Linked DNA regions of Homo sapiens: region 1 is linked to region 2. Evidence: fine-mapped expression QTL. Tissue or cell type: whole blood. Region 2 holds a variant in brackets; the other region holds the start of a gene. All regions are shown on one strand. Distances are between the middles of the regions.

What was found. PIP is the estimated chance that this variant, and not a neighbour inherited with it, causes the effect.
Region 1: it holds the start of LARGE1, and the variant in region 2 is fine-mapped to the expression of LARGE1 in whole blood (TOPMed, PIP above 0.99).

What each region holds. Positions count from the first base shown.
Region 1 is chr22:33,919,011-33,921,694 of GRCh38, forward strand. LARGE1 (LARGE xylosyl- and glucuronyltransferase 1) reads right to left here and starts at 1,466. Exons shown (of 15, transcript NM_133642.5): 1 at 985-1,466. It overlaps LARGE1-AS1 (LARGE1 antisense RNA 1), which reads left to right and starts at 2,215. Exons shown (of 2, transcript XR_001755630.2): 1 at 2,215-2,513. RefSeq lists silencers at 994-1,093, 1,364-1,513, 1,834-2,333.
Region 2 is chr22:33,271,560-33,274,226 of GRCh38, forward strand. It overlaps LARGE1 (LARGE xylosyl- and glucuronyltransferase 1), which reads right to left. Exons shown (of 15, transcript NM_133642.5): 15 at 950-2,667. Among named protein-coding and RNA genes, the nearest start is that of LARGE1-AS2, 110 kb to the left of the region's middle. The variant G/T (reference allele first, on the strand shown) is at 1,375.

The sequences.
Region 1 (2,684 bases), 650 kb after region 2:
CAGGAGATCATTTTAATGGACTGAGTGACAAAATTCACGGATTCTGAATTCAGCAGAAACCTGCTCAACCGAGGCACATCAGCACAGAGACGAAAAAAAAAAAAAAAAAGAGTCCAACCCCATTAAACAGGGTCACCCAAGGGATGGATTCAGTGTGCAAGAGACAATCTGTTCCCTCCGAAGTGACCCATTTAAAATCAGATTGTTCTGGGGGAAGCTCACAGGTTTAATAAATTTCAAACAGGCAAGGACAGGCTTGTACAACTGAGGTTCCTTAAGAGGAACATTTAAAAGAGGATAAGGCAATGAACAAAATAACTTGAGGATACACAAACTTTGGAGTCCTCACTCCAAAACTTCAAAAGCAGTGACATTTACAAGAATGTCTGGATAGCTATACACTGATCACTCCTCACAAGCAGCTTTGACTAACAGGAAGGACATGCTGGCTGGGCTTCCCCCCTACAGATAGCAATGCCAACCAACCACTCTGTCCTAAAGAGGGACTCGCAAGCTGTGGCTGCTCGCCCCCAAATTGCGCAGGACTGTCTGCAAGAAGGAACAAGAAAAGTTATTCACAGCATCACACCACGAAAGGTAGTTGCGTACCGCCCAACAGGGCCCTCTCCAAACACGGCAGGCTCCGCGAACCACAGGTGCTCACCGCTAACAAGAGGGCCGGGGGTGCGGGTATCGGTCACATGCCCTCGTGGTGTTAACCAGAAACTCCTCCTGGCTCGCTCCCTGCCAGCAGCCTGTGTGCCCAGAAGCCGAGCAGGCCCTGAGGGGGTCCTGGGGACTTCGGAGACTGGGGGCTTCCACCTCCAGCCTCTCCAGGGCTCCCGGCCGGGGCAGCAGAGGGTGTGCCCGGCCTCCCCGCCGGCATCCCGAGTACAGGGGGTACCAGCCACAGGTTCGGAGAACTTGTCCGGCGCTACACACCACGGCGCCCCCGCGGCGACTCTCGCGCTCCGGGGCTCTTACCTTGGCCGTGACTGCCGCCAGGCAGAGGGAGACACGGAAGAACAGGGTGGCGCGGCGGCGCCGCCGCCTACGAGGCGCAGGGGGTCCGGGTCAGGGTCCCGGCAGGCGCTGCCCTACTCGGAGCGGCGGTGCCAAGCACAGAGTTCGGGACTGCCCCCGGCTCCAAATGCCGCGGCGAGGGTCCGGGTCCCCCAAGCTGAGCACTGTCCCTTCTTCCTCTTCCTCCGGGGCCGCTGCCTGGAGCTGCTCCCGGCCCGGGGGACTCTTCCGAGCCAGGGGCGCCCCGCATGGGCAGGGGCCTGGGTCAGCCTCGGGTTGGGTCCAGGGAGCGACCGCCGGGGCCGACTCCACCTCCCGCGCTCCAAGCCGATTCGTCCCTTCAGGGCAGGGCCTGCCCGCGAACAGCCCGGCGAGACGAGCGCGGCCGCGCCCCCAGCTTCGGGCGCCCGGGCTCCGGCGCGGCGGCGGGGCAGGAGCAGACTGGCCGGGCCGGGCGCCGAACGCGGCGGCGCGGGGGGGGCTGCAACCGGCCGCGGCGCGCTCTCCCCCAGGGCCTGCGCCGCCCGCCCGCGGCTCCGCGGGAAAGAAGCGCCGGAAAAGGCCTCGCCCCGGCCTGGGGCGCGGGGCCGGGGGCGCGGGGCTAGGGGAGGCGCCCCGGGAAGGTCACGGGAGCGGAGGCGCGGCGAGTGGATCGCGGCGCGGTGGGTGCGGGGAGCCGAGGCGGGCGGCCCCCGCCGCCGGGAGCGCTCGCCGGCCTTGGCCGCCGCCGCCGCCTCCGAGATGCGCCGGCTTCCCGGAGCGCCCGGCGCTCGGAGCTGGGCGGCCGCTGCAGCCGCCGCGGGCAGCCGGGCGCCGCTGGCCGGAGCCGGCGCGCGATCCCCGCCTCCCGCGCCCGGCCAGGAGTGGGCCGCCGCGCGGGAACCGGCAGGGGCGGGCGCTGGGGTCCGGGCTCCGGGCTGGCCCCGCCGCCTCCGCGTGCCCAGAGCGCCGGACTCGCTCAGCAGCTGCAGTGACTGTGTGTCTGTGTCATGTCTGTGCAGCCGGGGGGGACCGCGAGCCGGGGCTGGGTTCCGAGCGGGGGCGGGGCCGGCGCCCGCGTCGGCGCCCGCCCCCGACCCCGTGACCGAGCGGCCGGCCAATGGCAAGCGCCGCAGCCGCGCGGACCGAGAGTTCGCCCCCGCACAGGCTCCGCCCCCCGGCGAGACTCCGCCCCGGTGCTTCTTCAGCTCGCTGGCTGGCAGGCAGGCGGAAGCAACACCCGGAGCCGGGATCCCGGGCCGGGTCGGGATGAAAGGGTGCAAGCTGGGAGCTCCCCGCCCTTCTTCCCCCAACCCCGGCGGCTCCCGGCCGCCTCGGGCTTGGCGTGCCTCGCGGAAAAAGGGGGAAGGGAAGCGGGACGGGCCCGCAGCTGCCGTGGTAGAGAGGCTCGCAGGCTTGCAGGACCATGCAGCCTGCTCCCCAAATTGCACAAAACAGCCGTCGTGAGAAGTAGGAAGTTTCCCCGCCTCGGGTCGCAGCTTCTCTCGGAGGTGGGCATGCTGTGGGGCAGCCGGAGTCTGTGAGGAGCCCCGCCGAAGGGCTCTGACGGCATCTTTCTGGGATCGGTATCCAAGAATCCTGTCCAAGGCTTCCTCTTCCTCTGAGGAAACTACATTTCTTTTTCCTCCACCCCAAACACACACCCCATGCACGCACAACAC
Region 2 (2,667 bases):
ATTAGTATTGGCTTATTTAAGCATGAAAACATCTGTGTGACACATTTAAAGGCCTGTTTTACCCCCCAGGGAATTGATGCAAAGAAATCAACATCTTTTGCAATTACCTCTGCCCAAATGGCTACAGCTCCCCACACATAAGCTGGGGCTGGCAGTGAACTGCTGCTCCCAGTGTAAGTTCTGGGAATGCAGGCTGCTGGCTCTGCGGACCTCAGCCTCCATTGGGTTGGCAGCCTCTCTGTTGAAGTTGGGCATCCGCCAATGTCTGAGCTCCAGCCTTCAGTGAGATTGGCTTACAGTGTAAGGCACCTGTCTTTGGGGAAATAGGATTTTCTCCTGTTGGTGTGAAGTATCAGTTTCTGGCCTTAATAAATTCACTGTACGTGAAGGTACATCATCTTCTAGTTTATGCCTATTGTGTAAAAATAATTAGCACCTTTCATTCTCAGAAGTGACCCGATTTAGATGACAAATTACATGGTCACCAGCTACGCCCATAAAAATGCAAGTGAAAGCAAGGTGGCTGGGCATGAGTCAGGGGCCAAGCAAAATTTTAAAAATAAAAAGGCTTTAGGGAATTAAAAATGGATTTTTAACATTGAGGAACCAGTGCTACCATCAGGTTTTCACTTGGCTCAAGTAGCTGGTAATGATTAATTCAAAACCTGTATCGGTATGTGTACATCTCCTAACAGTGGTCCTCTCTAGGGAAGGAGGAGAAATTAGTGAGTGCCTCTGTATCTGTGTATCTGTCTGTGTGTGCTTGTGTGTACACAGGGGAGAGAGAAAGTCAATGATATGCTGCTGGTAAATATTTAACAACTAGCTCTTGGGGATGGGGACAGAGGAATCACTGAACGTGGAAACTGGAAATATGCCCAAAAAGGCCTTGTGAGCATGTAGAAGCTGGCCTGGCACACCACTGAACAAATTGGACTTTGACATGTACTTTCAAAATTTTTGTTCTGCTTTATACATATATGTCACTTTTTATTTATAAATGCTTTGTATATAGGCTATATACTTGTATGCTCTGTCTACATATATATTTACATACATACATAAGCCTAGCTAGATCTATGCAAAAATTAGTCCTAATGGTAATTTTCCTAATTCTTGTATAAATTTCCGTGTAACATCCACTTGAGCATGTAACATCGTGAGTGATCTCACAAACCGGATTGCTATAGGGTCCCACATGACTACCAGGCCCAAGGATGGGATGTTCCCTTTACAATTGATTACCAGGATTTACCCTCCTAGCCCACATCTGGTAGAAGACAACATCTGGCTCCAGTGTTGAGAAAGATGCGGAATGGAAAACTTGAAGATGGTTTGAGTTAGAGACAGAGTGGGATCTAACTTCAGGCAAAA[G/T]GGGAAAAAAAAGGCTAAAGTTCAAATGATGAGAAAAATAGAATGGGGGAACAGAAAGTGTGAAGTTGCTGTTTATCCACTGCAATTTAGCTCTCTATGTCAAGGTGTGTCTCAGTAGCTTCCTGCAAGAGTGGGAGGGGAATGGGGAAGAAACAGTCTGTACTTTCATTTATTAAATGCAGCTTTCGCTGGTCACATTGCAACTCAATACAAACAGCCCAGCAGAGGGTAGGGCATTAACTCTTGTTCTCATCAATGTAAACACAATATTAATATTGAAGATTAAAGAAAATGGGTAAAAAGTCCAGTGTCTCCTCAATCTGTGTGAAGGTGAAGGTGGTTGCCTACCCTTGGACAGGTCCCAAAGGGAGACTGAGGTTGTCACCTCTTCCCATCCACAGTGAAGCAGGCAAGAACCAGAGGAACCCAATCACTTTCTTCCTGTAGGTCTCCAGATGGATACGTGAATCTTCAGAACTGGGCTTTCATGAATTATGAAAGTTCTTCGAAAGGCCTGAGAGGTTCGTACCTTGTGTGTGCACTGAAGTAGTTCCTTCAAAGCCCTTTCCCATGAATCAGTCACTGCCAATAGAAAATGTGACCGGTGTAAAACAGCCAGCCCTCGTAATTCCGCAGTCCCCATCGCTATAGCCCCTGGATTCTGGAGAGTAGGGAGTTCAAAGTCACGGGAGCCTCGGTGATCATCCTGAAGGAAGCTGCCCATGTTTAAATATCGGCCGAAGATGCTTGACCTCCTTCCTGGGCCACTGCTGATAGAGGGTGGTTGGTAGAGGCAGCTGATTTTCCTTTAGAGCCTCAAAGGATCAGATTTTCTATTTTGGATTGCCAGCCCCAAAAATAAACAAAACCCCCAAAGAAAAACAAAACAAAACAGGAGTGACTTTGGGGATAAGGAAACCCATCAACCCCACCTCCAGGACCCTCTGGTTACAATGTCCCCATTGGGTTTTTCCAAGTGGTTGGTTTAGATCATCGGTTTGCCCTCCGTTTGAATGCCCAGCTACATTGCAGGGCAAAGGGGAAAGTTTTCACTTAATAAAGACAATTTCACTTCTATTTCCTGGGACGAATAACCCCTAGAACCCTGACTTCCCTTTCTCCCCAGTTATGATGGGAAGCATAATTATTAAAAAGCATCCAGAACATCCTAAAGCCCTGCCCTGATCTTGTGGCTTTGCAGTAAGATGATAACCCTTTTACTCCCTGTCACCCCTTGATTTCCCATTCTTGAAGAGACTCATCTAGGTGGGCTGCATAGCTAACCTCTGGGAA